4 separate regions of the Homo sapiens genome follow, and all the other regions are linked to region 1. Evidence: fine-mapped expression QTL. A gene starts in region 1. Each other region holds a variant in brackets. All regions are shown on one strand. Distances are between the middles of the regions.

Evidence for each region. PIP is the estimated chance that this variant, and not a neighbour inherited with it, causes the effect. A credible set is the group of variants that fine-mapping cannot tell apart.
Region 2: its variant is the best candidate, but not a certain one, in a credible set for the expression of UNC5B in monocytes after LPS (Fairfax 2014, PIP 0.87).
Region 3: its variant is the best candidate, but not a certain one, in a credible set for the expression of UNC5B in lung (TOPMed, PIP 0.72).
Region 4: its variant is the best candidate, but not a certain one, in a credible set for the expression of UNC5B in lung (TOPMed, PIP 0.53).

Annotation. Positions count from the first base shown.
Region 1 is chr10:71,210,525-71,215,668 of GRCh38, reverse strand. UNC5B (unc-5 netrin receptor B) reads right to left here and starts at 3,099. Exons shown (of 17, transcript NM_170744.5): 1 at 2,605-3,099. The coding sequence starts at 2,683. RefSeq lists enhancers at 1-72, 3,043-3,337 and a silencer at 2,939-3,198.
Region 2 is chr10:71,230,192-71,235,335 of GRCh38, reverse strand. The region is part of intron 1 of UNC5B (unc-5 netrin receptor B); the gene reads right to left. It overlaps LOC112268061 (a long non-coding RNA gene), which reads right to left. Exons shown (of 2, transcript XR_002957083.2): 1 at 1-5,144. Among named protein-coding and RNA genes, the nearest start is that of UNC5B-AS1, 15 kb to the right of the region's middle. RefSeq lists enhancers at 1-22, 1,531-2,284, 2,330-2,840. The variant A/C (reference allele first, on the strand shown) is at 1,912.
Region 3 is chr10:71,243,371-71,248,514 of GRCh38, reverse strand. All of the region lies in intron 1 of UNC5B (unc-5 netrin receptor B), which reads right to left. LOC112268061 (a long non-coding RNA gene) reads right to left here. Exons shown (of 2, transcript XR_002957083.2): 1 at 2,142-5,144; 2 at 1-428. Among named protein-coding and RNA genes, the nearest start is that of UNC5B-AS1, 28 kb to the right of the region's middle. RefSeq lists enhancers at 923-2,122, 1,428-2,347. The variant C/T (reference allele first, on the strand shown) is at 3,155.
Region 4 is chr10:71,271,630-71,276,773 of GRCh38, reverse strand. The region is part of intron 1 of UNC5B (unc-5 netrin receptor B); the gene reads right to left. Among named protein-coding and RNA genes, the nearest start is that of SLC29A3, 45 kb to the left of the region's middle. The variant GC/C (reference allele first, on the strand shown) is at 2,539.

The sequences.
Region 1 (5,144 bases):
GTGGGGTGGGAGGAGATTTCCAGGGCCAACCAGAGCTTTTGAAGTGGCCTTTTCTGGCTAGTCACTTGCTGACATTACCTTCTAAGGGTCTGGGGTTTTATGGTTCCAGTTTTGATTTCTCCAGCATCAGACTTTACAGCTTAAAAATATTCTCAGTGCTGTAAAGGGAGCTCATTCCCATATTCACCAGGGATGGGGTGGGGTGGGGAAAAGGAGAGAGAGGTGCCTGCCACTTGAGGGGAGCTTGGACACCCCCAGTAAAGATCCCTCTTTGCAGAGAGAGCCTCGCCTGCCTCAGTCTGTTATGAGTCTCATGGCAGAGGGGTGGGTGGATAAGAATAGGAGGGAGGGTCTGCTGGGCTTGAATCAGTCTGGCTATTGGACAGGAGCCCTTCACATGTCTTCAATCTGTGGCCAAGTGAAGGCAAGATTTGGAGAAAGCCAACACTCTGGCCTTGATTTTCCCCATCAGTGAAATGGAGCTTGTGAAGGATCCAATGGAAAAACCCAAAGAACATTCTGAAAGAATGATGCTCTGTGCCTGTGGCATTAGAGAAAAACAAGATTGTGTGGGAGGAAGGGACATGTTCTCCCTCCTGAAGGCAGGTTTCTAAGGGCCACACATTCTGGGCAATGAGAAGGCTGCAGGCCGACCCCACCAGTTGGCCCCTCTCCAGGCTGGTGGGCAGGCAGCTACTGCCGCACTAAGTAATGAGCACAATTCCAACACCGCTTCTGCTCGCTGGTGAGAAATCAAAGCCGGGTATTAGAGGCCATTTCTGACTGGGCACCATTCGTGCCCAAATCCATCAAAGCCCTGGGCCTGGGGTTTCTTCTGGGGAAGGTGGGGGCTGGATGCTTTGTTAAGCAGGAAATGCAGGCCACCCCCAGCCTTCTTGGCCAAGCCCACCCACCCAGAGAACTATAGGCCAACCAGTCTTGTCTTTCTCCTACAGCAGCCCCTCATTCCTGGTAACCTAAGTATTTATTCCTGATCCCACTGTCCTGCTGGTACAAAAGCAGCTTCCCAAGACACAACCCTGCCCATGTGCCATTTACAGAGACTTCACCCTACCCTTCAATCATCTCCTCAAACCCCCTCCAACCAGAAACCAGCACCCCAACCAAGCACCTCCCACGTCTAACTGCACCCTTTAAAACAAGGTTGGACATTCAGCAGCCTGCCTTCCCCATCCCCATCATTACCTTCCAACTTCAAAACACTGCTTTAAATACCAGAGTCTGCCCAAATCATAATTAACTTGGATCAAATGGTTGAGTGTTGTAACTCTACTGCACAGGACTTGCACCAGAAAAAAAAAAAAAAGTGGGGAATGTGCTAAAGCCAAGCCCTCACTCCTGGCCGTGGGAATCACTAATTCCAGAATGAGGAATCTTTGGCTATGGAGGGGGGAAGGGCGGATGTCAACTTCGCAGCAGGAGGTAGGAGGTGGGGAGGGCTGCGTCATCTCGTCCACTTTCTGCTCCAGTTTTCCTGCTCCATTCTCAGCCTCAACTCAGAGAGGACTCCGTGCAGGAGGCCCCGTCCCCACCTGGCTCCGGAGCCGAGCCGCCCGGCAGCCGTGGCCAGCCCACTTGCTTGGGTTCGGGTACCAGAGAGAGGCTGGCTCCATTCAGTCCACAGCCTCCCCGAGAAGACGCAGCCCAGCCAGCGACGCCGGGTCCAGCTACAGGACGAGCGAGAAACGTATTCATCCACGGCGAGAGAGGAGGGTTAGGGACTTTATTTCGGAGCCCACCAGTTCGCTGAAGTCATCTTGGTGGGTCCAGAGCGGGCGCTGTACCAAGGAGAGCGCACCTAGTCTGTTCCCCGGACAGCGAGAATGTCAGTGACCAATTTAAAAGGAAACTCCGCAGGATCGCTAAGAACCCCTACCCGCATCCAACACACACACACACACACACACACACACACACACTCTCCAACACTCAGAAAATTAATAATAATAATAATAATAATAATAATAATAATTCTTCCAGACCTGCGGGCCCAGCGATCTCGGGGAAAGCTATGTGTGCAAGACTTAGCCCTCCCCGCTTCAGGAGCCCTGCAAGCCGGCCTGCCGAGGCTACCGAAGCGCTTCCTGTGTTCAGCAGGTCTTTTCGCTCTCTCCCTCTAGTCTGCAGATTGCTGTCCCTATAGCGCGTAAGAGCCTAGGCGAGCCGGGACCAGACTAGTAAGTTACCGGCGTACGGCAGCGAGCGCACACCTTGCTTATGTAGCCAATGTTCTTTTTCGGGGCGGATGCCAGGCGCGCGGAGAGCCGGGCGTCCCCAGGAGGCGGATCCTCCCGGAGACTCAGACCCTGACTCCTACACCCCTTCCAGGGAGAAGAAGGGATCCCTTTCAGGAGCGAGCAGGGACCTTTCAGCTTACTGTGAAGCCCCTTCCCTGCTCCCCGCTCCCGCGATGTGGATGCGCCATTGCCCACTTTGGGAGGCAGTAAAATCTACATTCTAACTTGGGCGCCCTTGCCGCTTTTCCTGCGCGCATCGATGCGACGAAAGACCACCTCAACTTCAGGACAGAGTGAGGCGCAAGGGTCCCCTAGCCCCGCGCCCCCAGACCCGATCGCTTCCTACCTGCTTGGCTCAGCCTCGGGTCCCAGCAGAGCAGCAGTGCCAGCAGCAGCGCGCCCCGAGCTCCGCTCCGGGCCCCCATGCTCCCGCGGCCTGGTTCGGGCGCCTCTCCCCCAGGGCTGTCTCCCTGGCCCCAGTCTCGCCGCCGCCGTCTCCGCCGCCGCCGCCTCCTCCTCGCCGTCCTCCCCGGCGCCCGGCAGCGCCAGCCCGTGCCTTCCGTGGGGGCAGCGGAAGCCACGCTGCGCGGAGGGCCGCCTGGCACTCGGAGCGCGGTGGGTGCCTGGCGCCGGCTCTCGAACGAGGCTCCGGCGCGCCCCTCTGGCTCCGGGTCTCTGAGCGCTCGCCTGGCTCCGGCGCTGTGCCTCCGAAGTTGCGCGACCGCTCAGTGGCGCTCGCAGCGGCGGCGCCGCGCAGTCCCAGCCCCAGTGCGCGCCTCTCGGAGCCCCGCGGCTGCGTGCGGCTCCGGCGCCCTAGCCGGCCCCAGCCGCCTGCCACAATGCCGAGCGCCGCCGCTCGCTCGCCGGAGTGAGTTCGCCAACCGAGGGGACCGCGCGCGGCCGGGGCGGGGCCTGGGCGACCGAGGGCGGAGCCGACAGGGGGACCTTGAGGGGGGATCCGACGGCCATCTGGGCGCGGCCGCGGCAGAGCTGGGGGACCCGGGGGGAGGGTCCTCGCGAGACGCTGGGCGCAGCGTTTTGAAAAACCCGGCCGCTGGAGAATGGCTGGACGTGGAGGCGGCCCAATTTTCGCTCCCCCAAATTAAGGAAATCTGGCTTTGCGCCTTCATTTGGCTTGGCCATGTCAGCTTTCTCCTCTGATTAAACATAGGACTCTCACTTTTGGCTCCCCTGTCTGTAGTATGCGCTCTGCCTTCCACATGTGGGGGTCTTTCCAAAAAAAAGGCTCCCAAAATGAGAACACCCAAGTCCTGGTTACGCGGGGGCTTACAGCGATATGAAGCTGGGTATAGATTAGGATCATCCTGGCTGGCTCTGCTTGTCTGTATGATCTCCGGCAGAACTGTTAACCAGACCCCTGGAAACCCCTCCAGCACTCTGATCCTGCGTTGTTGTAAACTAGCCTCCTACCTGACAGTGGGACAGCCATTTTTGGCTCAGTGTAAACTTGGACTCTGCCCCTTATTTACTGTGTGACCTTGAACAAGTTACTTAACAATTCTATTGCTCCCTTCATCATCATCTGTAAAATGGAGGAAAAGGATAACTATTTCATAAGGGGGTATAGAATTAAATTTTAAAACTTGTGTGGAAATTGCAGTGCAAGTGTCAATAATCTCTTTCCAAGATTCTCCCCTCCCAGCCAGTCTGATTCCAGGGGGAAAGTCCTGACCACCCAAAGGTGGTCCAAGGAGCACGTGGGGACAGGTGAGGTTTGAAGGATGGGCAGTGTCTTGGGATTGAAACCCAGAGAGATCAGAACGAGCGGATCAGCTAACATAGGCAAAGACCTTCCCTGTGCCAGGCACAGGGCTAAGCACTCTGTATGCATCATGTCAGTTAATTCTCACAACCCTCTGAAGTAAGCACCATTTACATCCCATTTTACAGATGAAGGACCTGAGGCACAGAGGTGTAAAGCCACCTGCCGGAGATCACACTGCTTGGAGTGACTGAGTGACTGAGCAAAGGGGATGGGGGAGATGGGATTGGAAAGAAACCCTCTAAACGGGGGAGCCTCACTTGAACACCTTCCCTGGGGCTGGATTGGGCTGTGCGAAGGGGACTGTCCTAGCTGTTTCCCCAGAGGTGAGGTGAAGGCAGGACTAGTACCCTCTCCACACACACTCCCCTCACAAGCCGGGGTCTTGGAGTATCTAGGGGAGGTCGTGCATGCCATCAGCACATCTCCCTAACCCTCTCTGACTGGGCACCCAGCATCAGGAGGGTGGCAACAGGTGGACTGGGACTCCCTGGGGGAAGAACTTCCATCAATTGAGAAAGGCTGCTGTGGGCAAAGGTAGGTTGCTTAGCTTGGCCTCTGACAGCCCTAGCAAGGGCAGTGGATGAGACAGTCAACAGCTCAGCACACCCAAACCAACTCCACCTTGCAAATACACATGCACACACACAACTACCCACCCATACACACCTGCAAAGGTACACACACGAAAACATACAACAAAGACAACAGGTGCAATGTTTCACCTCCCATAAACATCACACCTACAAATAGGCACCCGACTCCAGAGACACCCACATACCAAAGATGTATGCCTAAAAAAAGCAAACACACAGGCGCACACAACTAAAAACACAAATAGGCAGATGACTCCCAAGACAAATAGATATTTGGATACTTAACTACTGCCAGGAAACACATACAGGCACGCCTGTGCCAAGACCCACATCTGACGGTCATCCCCTGGATGCAGGCACATGGTCAAGGTTGTGCCTGTGCTGGAGAGCTCAGCAGGGACCTCAGCAGAGACGGGCAGCATGCAGAGACCACAGCATGTTCTCTCTCTCTCCCCAACCTCTTTCTCTCTCTCCTTCAGGCCAGTGGGGTATTGGAGATTTTTCTAA
Region 2 (5,144 bases), 20 kb before region 1:
ACCATCAAGCCCCCAGAGGGGTTCAGAAGGGCTGGTGGCTGCAGGCCTGTTAGTCCCACCCCTCCTGTCTTTCTCTGTGGTCTGGGCCCCTTCCCTGGTGGCTCCCCTAGCGAGGGGCTGTCTGCAGATAATCAGGGAACAGATTTGGAAAGAAGGAGGAAAAAAAGCACTCCGGCGCCAGACAGGATCCTTATCTTCTGGGGCGGGATGTCTGTCAGAGGCAGAGGCAGAGGCAGAGGCAGAGTCAGAGGCAGCGGCAGCGAGTCCTGCAATAGGGGCCCGGCATTGCAGCCAGGCCGGGGGAGGAGGGGCCCCCCTGGGCGCTGGGGGTGGGAAGGGCTGGCCTCTCCTTCTGGGCCAGGAGACCAGTGGGAATCTATCTGGCCTGCTGGGGAGGGGATCTGGATGCCAAATCCTGTCCCCTCAACCCAGCTTTTAGGATGAGTCTCCCTGATGTGTTCAGAATGACCCTGGGACCTCTGCAAATAGAGCAGAGGAAGAGAGGCCCAGGTTTCCAAGTCTCCCAAGTTCCTAACAAGGCAGCAGGGCCCCCAGACCCAGCAGCCTGGAACTGGCTGGGGAACTGTCTTAGCCACAAGACTCTGGCCAAGTATTCTAGCTGCATCTAGGTGCTCTCACCTGTAGAATGGGGATGAAACCCCACACGCCTCTTGCACTGAGCTATTAGGCTTCTCCCCAGGGATTCCATCTAGAAAGTGCCTTGCAAAGGGAAGGTGTGTTCTGCCTGGGGCTTTGAGCTTCCCACCCCAGGGGCTCCCTGCTGGTTCTCACACAGCTTGACAGACCAAAGGAAGGTCATACAAGGGGCTTTGCTTCTTATGCTGGTCCCCAGAATACTTTTCAGTGAAACCCCACAACATGGTGAAGGTCCTTTTCATAGAGCAGAGAGCAGGTTTTCCGATGGGGTACTGTTTCCCCAGGGCAGTCCATAAACCTTGGGACCAAGAAGCTTCGATTCCCTGGCTTGGACTTCTCTGGGCCAGGCCTGAATCTCAAGAATGAAGCCTCATCTCCGTGAGGGCCCCAGCAAAAGCCCCTGGAGGGGGCGGTGTCAAGTGCGGGCCAAGGGCACAGGCCCTAATCAGGCTCCAAATCCAGGCTCTTTTGCTGCTTCCTGGCTGTGTGACCCTGGGCAAGTGTCCTTATCTCCGCCCCCCACCCCCGAGGTTAATTTCCTCATCTATAAAATGAGGAAGATATCTCTTCAGTGCTAACATTTTGTAACTTCACACTTGACCTAACCGGCTCTGCCCCTGAGAAACTTGAACCGTAAAAAGAAGGGAGCCATATAACACATATAACTGTACTTGCACACTCATCAGGCAGAGAAGCATCAAATCAAGTGTGCCTGTGTGGCCTGGAGCACCCTGGGACCAGGTTCCTTTGTGGACCCTGTTTCTAATCTCCTGGCGGCCTCAGCCAAGAGCAGTTAGAGTGGGCTGGCCTCCTGCAGGAGTTGGACCAGTTCATCTCCCAGGGATGGGCTGCAGGAGGAAATGCCAGCAAGGGTCCTGACAAAGAAGGAAAGGCTTCTGTCTGGTGCTGGGGATTAAAGGCACACTCCCCTGTGCCCCACCTCCAGTTCCCTGTGCCCCACCCCAGCCCCACCAGAACCTGGCTGGCCTGTCTCCCAGCTGCCATCTGTAGGGGTTGGTCCTCATTAACTGCTGTGGCAGCTGAGGGGCTGGGAGAGGGAGATGCAGGCTGCAGAGCTAGAAACTAAAGCCAGGCTGGGACGGTGGCCACCTCTGGAGCTAGAGTGATGGACCGTGGAGTGGGGAGGCAGAGGGAAGGGGGAGACAAGGGAGTATAGGGACGGGTGACAGGCTTGGCCAGTGGGAGAGGCAAAGGTGAGAGCTGGCTGAAGCCGCCAGCATCTTCCGGGCTGTT[A/C]TTCTGGGCAACATTTTATTTATTCAGAGGCTAGGGATGCGGCTCAGCATTGGTTGGCTCAATATTTATTACAAGTGCATTGACCTTGTACTGTGGACCCCGTGATGGGGCCACCTCAGGACCCCGGGATGGGGCCACCTCAGGATCCTCATCTCCTCGGTGCTAGGACACACTTGAAAACCTGCAACGAAAAGCCGAGGGGTCCTACCTTCCTGGAAGACCACCCAGTCCAACTCTTGCTTTACCTTTGGGAAAATTGAGGTCTGAGGCAGAAACAACCTTGCTCAAGGTCACAGGGCACACTGGTCCTTGATCCCTGTTCTCTTGGCATTTAGGCCATCAGAATGGACAAGTGCTGTGGAAGTAGAAATACTGCAGACCACATTCAGAGGGACAGCGACCTGCCCACAAGTCCCCCATCAGGTGCAGACACAGCTGGCAGAAATCCTGGAGTAAGGTCGCAGCTTTGTGTACAAGGCACTCAAGCTCCCTGAGCTTTGGTTTCTTCCTCTCCACGAGCAAGGTAATCATGCCCATCTCACAGAGTGGTTGGGAGGACTGCATGAGAACACCCTGGAAACTGTCAAGCCCCATCCTACTGGAATTGGTTTATTCACTGACATGCTGCATGGCAGGCTGTGCTGGGAAGTGAGGCAGCATGGCCATGGGGGACTGGCATCCATCCATGGCCCCTAAACCCCTTCCTTATCACAGCTACCAAGGCTAGGCAGGCGGCAACTAATAAATCGGCAGTAAGAGCTCCTTCTTAACCAACTGAAGACATGTAAATGACCCAAAGCAAGGCCAGGGCTGCCAACTGGCGGAGCTCACGGTGACATCACATGCCCATTTGCTCCAAGCCTTCCAGCAGCTGAGGTCAGCTTGCAAAGTGGGAGCCCCTCCCCCTCCAGCCCCGTGCTGAGCCAAGAGGAGCATGGCACTGCCAGGGCTGGGGCTGGGGCCGGGGCTGGGCCACCAGCTCAGGTTCCACGAGTTCCTCCCTCCTTGTGCACTCCCTCTGCAATCGGCTCTCCTCCACCCTCCCTGACTGCATTTCCCTCATGAACACAAGATTGCTACTTCTCATATAACACATACGCGGTGGTGTGAACTTCTGGTAAATGAAGATCTTATTTAAAACTGTGTGCTATCAGAGGAGGAGATGAGATAGGTTTTGACACAGCTCAGCTGGCTTGCCAGGAAAAGGAGGTGCTGGGGGGCTGTGCACAGAGCCACAGGCCATTCCTGGGAGTTCCTGGGCAGTCATCGGAGATGGGCCACAAGGCTTCTGGCAATGCTTTCAACTCATCTATGAGGGTCAAAAAGGGTATCCCTTTCTTCATCTTTGCAGGAGGGTTCAACAAGGAGGTTTCCCCATTTGAGAATTCAGTTTGCTGTGTGGAACAAGTGGCTTAACCTTGCAGGGCTTTCCAAGAATGCAGAATTTTGGATCAGAGAGGCCTTGGAGATCCTCAGGTTCCAGGGTCCTCTACCTCAGCTACACAAGAGGACCACCTGGGGGACTTTTAAAGATCCTGACGGCCAGGCCAGAACCCAAGACCAATTAAGTCAGGATCTCTGGGTGGGACCTAGGTGCCAGGTGATCCCATTGTCCAGCTAAGGTTGAGAATGACCAAGCTAGTCTCTTTTTAACATAAGTGTGCCACAGAATCACCTGGGGTGTTTTGTCAAAATTCATATGCCCAAACCTGGCCCACAGTCCCTAAACCAGAACCTTTAGGGTAAAGGCCAGGCATGTGCATTAAAAAAAAAAAACTCTTAAGATTTTTACGTACGATTGTGGTTTTTCGTTTGCTAAGCACCTGTTCACAAGGGCCCACCGTGTGCTGGGCACCGTTCTGAGCATTTAGGGTACATTGCTGAGCGTACACAGCCCTGCGCTCCCAGGCTGGGGAGTCAACACATAAGTCTGTATTCAAACAACCATTCCAGATGGCAAGAAGTGCTGGAAGAAGAGTAAAAGAGGCAGGGGGCCAGGAAAGGACTCTCTGGGGAGGGGCCATTGGAGCCGAGACCTGGATGACAAGGAGCCAGCCACGCCAAGCTCAGTGCGAGAGCACTCCCTCCAGAGGCACGTTTGCTGATGTGTGAAATGACGACTCTAGCAATGGCCGAGCCCATACTCTCGCCAACCCCCACCTCACCCCTACTGTATTTTTAGGGTGCCCAGCAGGAAATGCTTGGAAGAGGCCAGTGGGTGTCACAATGGCACCTTCTGCCCCTCAGGAAATTCTATAGGCTGCTGGGCTAAGGGGACTTTACGATGCACAGCTTATATAGCTTTCATATAAGGAATCCTATGGTTCACTAGTCCAACCCCCTCATTTAACAGACAGGGAAACTGAGGCTCAGAGAGAGGAAGTGATTTGCCTTGCTGTAGCATCTCTGCTCTGACAGGGTTAAATGGGACAATGACTTCACCATGGAGGTGGCTTGCTGCTGTCAAGCCCATTGTCTTTACCCCCAGCCACACCCCAAATCCCTGTTCCTGGCTGCTCTCCATATAAACAACCTGTGTGTTCCAGCCATGGTACAAGTCTGTGACACATCCAGGGAGCTTGAGTGGTGGGAAGGTGGGGAACCCCCACTTCCCTGCTTCCCTGCCCCATAATCTTTCTGTGGGCGGGAGGTCCTTCCTCCCACACAAGGAAACCCATGAAAGGCCAGACAGAATGGTGCCAGATAAGGCCATGGAATTTGGAATTTGGTGGGATCTAGAATTTCCCTTATGGGGAAGGCTGGTCCCAGCTGTCCACCCATGGTGAGTATCCAAAGGGAGGCTGTGCCAGGCTCCAGGGATGTGGGGGGAGGCCCACATACCCAGGGCCGGAGGCCTGATGAGGTGGGGAGGGCAGAGAGAAGGTGGCTGGTTGTCTTTGGAATGTCCCTCCCCAGAGAGGCAGGCTAGGTCCACAGGTCACTTGGTGGACAGGACATTGAAAGCAATTTTGACCTTGGCCACTGGCCTGCTCTGCTCAGTCTGATGTCCACGTTTGTGGTATAGCCAGGAGGGCTAGAGGCTAGGGACTGCCTGTCTTCAACCTGCTTGGCCTTGGCTTCTCTGTGTGTTCAGGGGTCAGCAGCTTCCCTCGCTGAGCCATGGAGTGGAGGTAAGTTCCTGGCTCCCAAACAGGCCTGCACCCCTCCTCACTCTGACCAATCAGAGTGAGGGCCCTCAGGTTCCTCCTAATCACAGCTGAGTTCCCCTAGGG
Region 3 (5,144 bases), 33 kb before region 1:
TATTCAACAGGCTGTCAGGAATAGGAGAAAAAGGAAGAGCTGAGTTTAACACTCAAAGAGAAAAGTGCCAACTCAGGGGAAGAAGGGGAAAGTGGGCCCCCCTTCTCCCTGCCTCCCGCTAGCTCATTCTGCTCTGGAGGTGCGGGGGGCTTTTCTCCAGGGCGCTGTGTGTATTGCCTCCCTCCTGGCCGTATAGGCTCCCAGGGCGTCCCTGCTTGGGAAAGTGCTGCCAAGGCCAGAGGCAAGGCTGCCTACCTGAGAGGTGGAAGCAAGTGGGGGGAGCTCAACTCCTCTTCTGCTCCTCAGAGACAGGACCCAGGGAGGCCCCAAGACTGCTATCAAAGAGCTGAGAGCTGGTACCAGGGACCTGGGTGCTTGGATGGTTCCCAGGGTGAAACCAGTATCTCCTTCCCTGAGATACCACAAGCCTGGAAAGGCAGTGCTAGAAGTCAGAGGCTTTGGCAAAGGGGAGAGAGAAGGGGGCAATTGAGTCCACTCCTACCCATTATACAGAGTAGGAAAGTAAAGGCCACATAGGAGGAGGTGAATCAGCAGCTTGCCAAAGGCAGATGCGGCATTCCCATCCTTTCTCCTTTTCCCTGAGGCCTTGAGAGGGTTTTCCAGGTCTCAAGGACACAAGTAAGACCCCCAAATCACTAGGGAGCCTTACTTCACTTGGGTCCTACATCCCAGGGCAAAGCAAAAAAGGAAGCATGTCTTCCCTTAGCCCCCGGTCTGATTTCTATAGAACTCACTGCCTGGTTTCTCTTTGTTCTATGGCACAGAACTCCCAACCATGCAAAGGTCCCAGTGTGGGTGCTGTGGCTCGCTCACATCCATGCTGGGGCCTGGGGACTGGGGGTGTACAGCTGAGGAAGGCCCAGACTCAGACTCCTGAAACAGTCCAACTCAGCTGGGGCCAGGGTGCCAGGTTAAAGTGCAGAGGGTCAGGTCTGGGAGCTCAGAAGGTGAGGCCTCCAGCTGACTGCAACGTCTGGGAGCCTGTCCAACAGCGAGGCCTCAGTGGGCAAGAAAGAAACAAGCCAGGCCTGCTGAATCACCTCTCCTCTCCGCATGTTAGCCAGGTAGGGGCAGGGGTGGAGGGGACTGCTGCAAGGCTGGGTAGATGGAACAGTGCCTTCCCTACAGCCATGGCCCTCTCTGTACACCCAGTGCCAATGGCACCTGCTCCAGGGAGCCTTCCCTGATGTTCTGGATGTTCACTCTGCAGCCCAAGATGCTGTCACCTCTGAGTGACCTCTCTGTTCTGACTCCATAGGCACCTTCAGGGCAGGGATAGGCCTTTACTATCCTATTGTCTCAAGGAACCTCTGTGAATAAGCTGGTGGTCTATTATTGCTCAGTAGTGAGCTTCCTGGACAATGCTGCTGGGCCTGCACACGGCCCCAGTGAACAACCTGGGTCATGCACTTCCTCATTTGGTTTGCACTGGAATCTGGGCAAAGGCTGGAGGCTGAAAGCTCCTGGCGCTGACATTCTCCAGGTAGCAGGGGCGTGATCAGACAGGTCCTGGACGGCTTCAGGGTGGGGCTCTGGTCACACAGGGAGTGGGCAAGGGAGTGTGAATGACTCAGTGCCAAGCCCTCCCTGCTTCAGGGAGCACCGTGAACCCGGAGTGTTTAAAGAAGTGGTCGCCCCAGAGGGAGCCTGCCGGCTGGTCAGCCGCCCTCTGCTCCCCTCTCTGGCCTGGGTCTTAGTCTTATTGACACTACGAATATAGTCTCAGCTTTATCTCCTTCAAAGGATGGGTGTGGGATCAAAAGAATGTGGCTGGCTCTGAAAGGGTTTTGACAGATGTGGAGCGCTGGGGTGATTATATTCATTGTTCATCCTTCCTCCTTTCCTTCCATCTACTTATCCAGCCACCCATCCAACTGTCAGTTTGTCCCTCCCTCCCTCACTTCCCTCCCTTCTTCCTTCCCTCAACCCAGTCACTCACCAATCCTGTACCCACTGATTGTTGGTGAATAGATATTGAATATGTAGGACTCTGACCCACAGCTTGGTCCCTGTGCAGAGAGGGAGCTCAGAGAGCCCACAGGGTGCTTCCCTGATTCAGCCCCACCTCCCTCAGGTGGGCTCCCCTACCATCCTGGCCCCCCACCCCACTGTGATCTCACCTGCCCCTGGGTGTGGAGAGCCACAAAGCCATCCTTCTGGAAGGAACCTCTCGGATCCTCTCCCCTTGGGGTCCTCCGCCTTTCTGGGACCTCCATGCCTCCTCAGCGTCATACCTCTCCCAGCGTACAGTATGCAGCCCCCCAAGCCACGCCAGTCTTGTTGACGAATGAACTCCTACCAGGTCTCCCTTACCGAGGGCAGCCTTCACCAACTGCTGGGCTTCTGAACTGGGGGCTGGTTTCTCCTTAGGCTTCCACAGGCGGGAGTCTTGTTTCCCAGCTAAGCCACCAGCTGCCTGAGGACAGCCTGAGCTTCAGTTCTCTCGGGGCCGCCCCCACCTCCACCTCCAGCCAGGTGTGCCAGGCCTTCCGCACACCCTCGCTCAGATACAGAGAGGAGGGAGCCATGACGCCCAGAAATGAGGAGGGTGCTGGCGGTGTATCACCAGTAAGTCACAGCCCCGTGTCCTTGGGACTGCCCTGAGACCAACAGAGCTGATACGATTTGCTCTATTTTCACAGGAGGCAGGATGACAAGCCGGGTCACAATGGAACGGGAGGACACCAGCTTGTGGCACCCCACCTGAGCACCCAGAGTGCCTACAGAATAGACAGGGAGGGCCAGACCCATCTCCAGAGGGCAGCTGTGGGTGGAGCAGGGACTCACAGGAGCCCACAGAGCAGATCTAGGACTGGCCCAAACCTAGTGGCCATGTGGCACGGCGAGGCTGGCATGGGACCTAGTCTGTGGCCATGCTGGCTACCAGGGATGAGGTGGCATATTCTCTGGATGAATCCACCCCTTTGCCTCCCCACATCAGAGACTAGCTGGGCTGCCTCTCCCCGCCAGCCCACCCAGAAGGACAGTTCAGACCCCAAGCTCTGAGGGCTCAGGGCCTCTCAGTCTGTACCACCAGGCCCTACTGGGATTCTGCTAAAGAAGACCTGATAGAAGGGTCCCCCCTGCCAGACTCAGCCTCCATTACCCCATCAATAAGACAGAGCTAGGCTCA[C/T]GGTAAACGCGAATGTAGGTGCGAATACCTTGGGATCTTGTCAAAACGCAGACTGATTGTGGTCTGGGACAGTGCTGAGGCCTCGAATTCCTAACAAGCTTCCAGGTGATGCTGGTAGCAAAGCTCTAAGGGGCTCCCAGCTCTAAGCCCTAGCTCCCAGAGAGATGGTGTTATGGAGAGAGCACACGTCATGTAGGATAAAAAGAAATCTTTTCAAAAGTGGTCCCCAGGGTTGGGGGAGAGGAGGTCAGAGAAGGGAGCCCGGGGACAATAGTGAATAGAATTGGGATTATTTCCTGAACTCTGATTCCTCGTGGGAACGAGGTTTTGAAAAGCTTTTCTTAAAATGGTTATTATTTAGTGGCCTGTCCAAAATAAACACACACATGCACTGCACGGAGCCAGGCAGGAAGTGAGGAACATCTGGGAGACATCTGGCTGCTGGAGAACTGAGAAGTGGGTTGGGGAGGGCCAGCGGGAGCTGGAGGCGGTCTGCGTGCCATGGTCGCCCACAGTCACACAAGCACGCCAGCACGCCCCCGCCGCCAACCAGTTCGGCGCACACAGGCATGCATGCATGCACACAGGGTGTCCCTAGGACCTGCAGGACCTTGCTGGCAGCGGCTGCAGATCGCGGGTTCTCGGAAGCGGACATCCTAGCTCTCAGGATCCGCCTTCCCTCCTCCCTCCTCTCCTCTTGGAGGTTGTGATATTTATGACTTGCCTCTCTACGTATGCAAGCTGAGTGTTTTCCTTCCACCTGCTCCCCGGCTAGCCTCAGAAAGAAGCAGGGGCCTGAGTAGGGGCAAACTTAGGGCAAGTCTCCAGGTTCCTCCAGATCTGTGCCCTCTGTAAGAAGGATATGACTCTTCTGCCTGGCTCACTGGAACACTAGAGGCCATTCACCCAACTGATATTTACTGTAAACCTTCTGCAGTGCCAGGCAACGTCCCAGGGGCTAGGTGTCATCTTAGGAGATTATAACCAAACCTTAACACCCAAGTTTAGGGTGTCGTCATAATGCCTGAGTGGCCCTGGGGTGGGGGGCCACCCTTACCCAGCAGGCATTGGCCCAGGCTGTAGGGATGAACCTGCCACCACCCTGTGAAGGCCAGGGCTCAGAGTCTCATGCTGATTATGCCTGGGGGCACCCTGCATCATTTCTGTTGTGGGCGTGTTGTGCAGGGAGTTCCTCCAAGGAGACTAAGAGGGCAGGAACCTTGTGTTGCACAATTCTCTGTCCCTAAAGATGCCTGGCCCAGTACTAGATACAGCAGAATAGGTGATGGCTAAATAAATGGAGAGACCTGGGCTTGTACAAAGGGCACAGTCTCTGCAGACAGACACACCCAGGTGCAGATCCTGGCACTACCACACACCAGCTGTGTGACCTCGGGCAAGTTGCTTCATCTCTCTGGGCCTCGGTGTACTCAATTATAAACTATGGAGAACAATGGTTAGCTCCAAGGGTTAAGCAGCCTGATACATAAGGTCCTTCACGCAGTGCCTGGTATTTGGTTAGAACTCAACCAATGTTATTATCACGAGGCACAGAAGAGATTTTAAAAGTAGTATTCACCCAGTGACCTTAGGTGATCCCTGTAGCTGTGGTTCTGATTTTCCTCCATGTTCCTTCCAGCCCACCCTGGACTGTCTAGTCTCTCCAACCTTGGCCATCCAGGTGGGGTGGCCTCTGAGGAGGGGGTGGCGAAGGCTTCCCAAGCCCCCCGGGGAACAGGGAAGGGAACTAACCCTGGCTGAGAACCTTGGTGTTGGGCACTTGATGGATGGCATCTTCCCAGAAGCCTTCAGAGCTGTGCCATCCAACACAGTGGCCACTAGCCATATGTGGCTGTTTAAACTTTAATTAAAATTAAAAGTTCAGTTCCTTCATCACCCTGGCCATATTTCCAGTGCTCAATAGCCACGTGTGGCTAGTGGCTACCAGACTGGGCAGTGCAGGCAGAAGACGTCCCCATCCCTGCAAGAA
Region 4 (5,144 bases), 61 kb before region 1:
ACAGCAGGTGCACAGTGAATGCAACTTCAGTAAGGGAGTAGGCCGGGCGCAGTGGCTCACGCCTGTAATCCCAGCATTTTGGGAGGCCGAGGTGGGTGGACTGCCTGAGCTCAGGAGCTCGAGACCAGCCAGGCCATCGCGGTGGAACCCCATCTCTACTAAAAATACAAAAATTAGCCGGGCATGGTGGTGTGCACCTCTAATCCCAGCTACTCGGGAGGCTGAGGTGGGAGAACTGCTTGAACCCGAGAGGCGGAGGTTGCAGTGAGTGGAGATCGCACCACTGCACTCCAGCCTGGGCGACAAAGTGAGACTCTGTTTCCAAAACAACGAGAGCCCTCACTTCTCCTTGGCCCTGGCTTGGGCCCCAGTGACTGAGGAAGGCTTGAAAGGTGGGCTAGATGAGAGCGACCTATGGCCAGGCTGCACGGATACCAGCTGGGTGGGAGAATAATGGGGTCTCGGGGTTCCTGGATGCTTACCCTGCCAGGCGCCGCTCAGAGAGTGGTTCATATGAACTCAATGAGCTCCATAATAACCCTAGACAGAGATGCACAAACGTTTTGATTTTTAGTGCCTCAGTAATTTTTTTTAAGCTATCCCAAGGCCAAAAAGAAGTCCCTAACAGGAATGTATTAGGTAATTAGATCCAAACAGCTTTGTAAATATTTATATCCTAAAATCTTAGGATAAATTGAAAGAAAAAATATATTTTTATCCCATTCCTAATAGCCACAAAGACTTACGAACAGGGATGTGTGCACCTGTCGGGCACTGCACAACTTCTCAAACTTTGGAATCCAAGCGGACACCACTATTCTTACTGTTTGTCATGGGTTACTCAAGTGCCACAATCCCAGCTTTGCAAAGATATGGTGCCAAATAAAGGAAAACAGAGTGATATGATGCTGAAACTGAGCTACCTGGAGCTACTTGTTGGTGCAGTGTCTGACAGCTATCTAGTATTACCGTGTCTCCCACATTAAAAATATCCCACAGCTTCCCTGTGAGTGTGCTGATGAACCCTGGGATAACTTGGCAGGTAGTTTGGGAACCACAAGCCTATGAGTTGGATATGATTATTATCCCCACAGTGCAGATGAGGAAACTGAGACCAAAAGCGTTTAAGTGACTGGCATAGAGCTATAAAGCTAGTAAGTGGCACCGCTAGGGGGCAAATTCAGGTGATCTGATACTAGAATCTGTCTTCCGAGCTCTGCTGAACTGGAAATGGGCATTTAGGTCTACTATGTGCTACTCCTTGCAATTCTTCCCATTTTACAAATGAAAACGAGGGGCAACAAGGGACATGAAGGGTCACCTGGTCGATGGCAGGAAGCAAGGCTTGAGCCATGTCTCTCAGCCCTGCCTCCCTGGCCTCTCTGCAGGACTTCCTGCTGCTCCGTCTCTACAGAGGAACCACATCTAAGACAGGCTCCCCTAGAAGTTCTTGCCTCAGCCAGGCCGGATCTGGGTTTCCTGCTGGCAGGAAAATTCCCACATGAAGTGTTTTTTCCCAAGAGTAGAACTCGTTTGGGCCTAAATTGCAAAAGTGCAGCCTGCCTTTAAAGCTGCATCCAAGAATGGTCCAGATATCCCGCCAAGAAGCTATGAAAGAAGACACATCCCTGCACAGATGTAATGACAAGACAGTCAAATGAAGGACACGAAAGATCGCTGGAGGCAGAGGCCCTGGGTTTGCATCCCAGCTGGGGACTGGCATTGCTGTGTGGCCATTCTCTCCCAGGCCCTGGAGTTTCTGTCTGTAAAATGAGGAGGTTGGCCAAGTCAGTCTCTCAAGCCCTCCTCTGCTTCTAACACTTTGAGGTTTAAAGATCCCTTATGGGGAATCTGTTCATGTGTGAAAATGTCCTGTTGAGTAAATTTTTTTCTTCAGAAAGCAAATTTGCTTAAATTAGGGTCACTTTCCTTGCCATTGCTATACGGTGGTCCTAAAGCAGAGCGTAGGTAGAACCCAGGGAAGGAGGAGGAGGAAACACTGTTGGGCTCGCCTAACCATGCTCCAGCCCACCCATCCCAGGCCTTAGATCAAAATGACCACCAGCACCTCTGGATGGGACCTCCGAGGGGTGCCATCCAAACTCTCACCTCTAATTTGCCTTTACCTGCCTCTTTATGAGGTCTCTTTATGAGGTCTCTACATGAGACCTCTTTATGAAGTCTCTATAGAAGTTACTTAAAGGGCCATCTCATCCAACGTCTCCCATCAACTCCTCAGCCAACCTTGACTCACATACCTGTGGGGATGGGGAATTCATCACTGCTTTTCTCAGCCAGGTTCTTCTTCGGACAGACCTAATAGTTAGAAAAGCCTTCCTTACTCACAGCTGCAATTTGAGATTCAGCCATTGCTAGACTTCTAATTTCTATTTTATTTTATTTTTTTTTTTTTTTGAGACAGAGTCTCGCTCTGTGGCCCAGCTGGAGTGCAGTGGTGCAATCTCGGCTCACTGCAACCTCCGCCTCCCGGGTTCAAGCAACTCTCTGCCTCAGCCCCCTGAGTAGCTGGGATTACAG[GC/C]ACCCGCCACCACAACTGGCTAATTTTTGTATTTTTAGTAGAGACAGGGTTTCACTATCTTGGCCAGGCTGGTCTTGAACTCCTGATCTCATGATCCAACTGCCTTGGCCTCCCAAAGTGCTGGGATTACAGGCATGAGCCACCGCACCCAGCCTAGAATTCTAACTTCTAAACTAACTAAACAGCACACTTCTAACTAAACAGTGCACTTCCCAGTCTGGAGGTTGCAGCCTGGTCCCCCAGTCTGTCTTATCCAAATATTCTCTAGAAGACACAGTTTTGCACCTCTCACCTCCATGCTGGCTTCCTTATGGACAAGTTCCTCATGTCACCCACCCATTTAAAATGCAGGAGGGTGAGGTGACCAGGCTAGGGTCTAGAGGGCACCTTCCTGCTTCTGGCAAGTCTGTTTTGAGTCAGACAGCTCAAAGCCTCCTTTGCAGTTTTGGTGGCTGCTCCTGGAGGGCAGGGAACACACTATGTTCTTCCTGGTGTCCCCCATGGGCAACAGGGCGCCCGTCTAGGAGTGGAGTGGAGCTTGTCGGACAGCAGGCCCTGTGCCCGTCTGTAGGCTTCTTCCCAGGGGCTGGGCCTGTGCAGTGCCTGCTGTGGAGACACAAGCTTGTATAAGAGGTGTCAGAATCTGACCCACCTGGATGAGCAGGAGTGAGGGCCCAGGAGGCGAAGGAATGACTTCAGGACAAATGTAAAGACACTGTACCTCTCAGAGGGTCTTCTCAGAGGAGGGGGTGGCTCCAACATTCCTGAGAGGGAGATTGTCACTATCCCTAGGGGAAGCCAGAGGAGTGCTGTGGCCCTTACCATGACTCTGAGCCTGGGCCCAGGCTGACCCAAGAGCCAACAGTCCTGGTTCCAAGCCTCACCCAGCACTGTGAGACCTTGGGAGGTTGTTTGACCTCTCAGAGCCTCAGTTTCCCCATCTATAAAGAAGTGACTAGCAGTTCCTGCTCTGTCAACTTTGGGGTATTGCTGTGAAAGGTCAACTGAGAAAACAGATGCAAATATCTTTCTTAACAAGCACTGTGGGCCGGGCGCGGCGGCTCACGCCTATAATCCCAGCACTTTGGAAGTCCAAGGCGGGCGGATCACCTGAGGTCAGGAGTTCGAGACAAGCCTGGATAACATGGCGAAAGCCTGTCTCTACTAAAAATACAAAAATTAGCTGGGTGTGGTGGCGGATGCCTGTAATCCCAGCTACTCGGGGGGCTGAGGCACAAGAATTGCTTAAACCTGGGAGGTGGAAGTTGCAGTGAGTGAGATCTCACTATTGCATTCCAGCCTGGGCAATGGAGCAAGACTCCATCTCAAAACAAACAAACAAACAAACAAACAAACAGGCAGTGCATGTGCCTGGGAGTGGCAGCAGGCAGGAGCTGTTCTCTAGCTGAACTGTGTGTGGGAGGTCAGAAGCCCCACAGACTGTTTCCTTGGCCTGGCACCATCTGAGCCCACGTAGACCAGACACAGAAAGTCAACGTTCAGAGAGCCTGGAGCCCTTGGAGCCCCGCGTTCTACCGGATCAGAGAGGGGAAGTGACTAATGCAACACCACACAGCAAATTAACAGCCAAGCTGGACCAGAGCCCAGTTGCTGATTCAGGACTGAGGAGGGACAGGGGGCCCAGAAAGACAGCACAGCCACGGCAGGGTTGTGGGTGAAGGCTTGGGCTCTGTGATTCCCATGCCTGGGATGGAAATTCCTGCTATCCATCTCAGCCGGGTCCACTTCCGGTCAGCCCTGTTGCCCAGGGCGGAGACCTCAGAGGGAGGCTGCTGTGGTCTGGTAGGGAAGGCCTTGAAACCCCCACCGCTGGCTTTTGTCCACAGGCCTGGGACCCCCAGGCTTCCACCAGGGGTGGGCATCTGTAGCCATGCAGGGCTGTGTGTCTCCAGGGCTGACTGGCTCAGGACAGGGAGGGGAGGAGTCAGGCGGGAGGTGAGGACAGAGAAACGCCCCACGCTGGGCACATTTATCATCAGCAATCACAGTCTTTCTCTAGCCCCTGGACACCGGCTAATTCTCCCCAGACTTGACCTCCCACTGCATGGAAAATCTCTCCCATTCACTGCGTGGCTGATGTGCTCAGTGGGGAGTGGGGAGAGTTGGGGGAGAGGAGCCAATTTATTATTATGTTTTAAAAACACACAACCTCACATGGAAGGACCCCTCCCTGGACACAAAGCTCTTCCTCCATCTGGCCCTGGCTCCTTGCGGCTGTGGGGTTCAGGCAGGGGCCCCCTCGGAGGCGGTCACAATGGCCGTTACCGATGACAAATGGGGGCTGGCGGGCTCGGGGGACGCCAAGTCATTCCTAACAAAGGTGGCTCCTCACGCAGCCCTCTTCCCACACCCTCTGCACCCATCTGTGCCCTGACATCACTTCCTCTGCTGTCACAGGAAGCGGCTTCGCCAAGGTGGCCAGCTGGGGCAGGGGCCTGCATCCTGAAGGGGGTGTCCATCTGCTCCTGTGAAACGTCTCCCTCGAAGGACTGTGAGGCAGGTGAAGAAGTGGATGGGAGGCTGGGGTCGAGGCCCCAGGGCAGGTGCAGTGCTGGGATGAGCCCGGGCCTGGCTATGGGGGCCA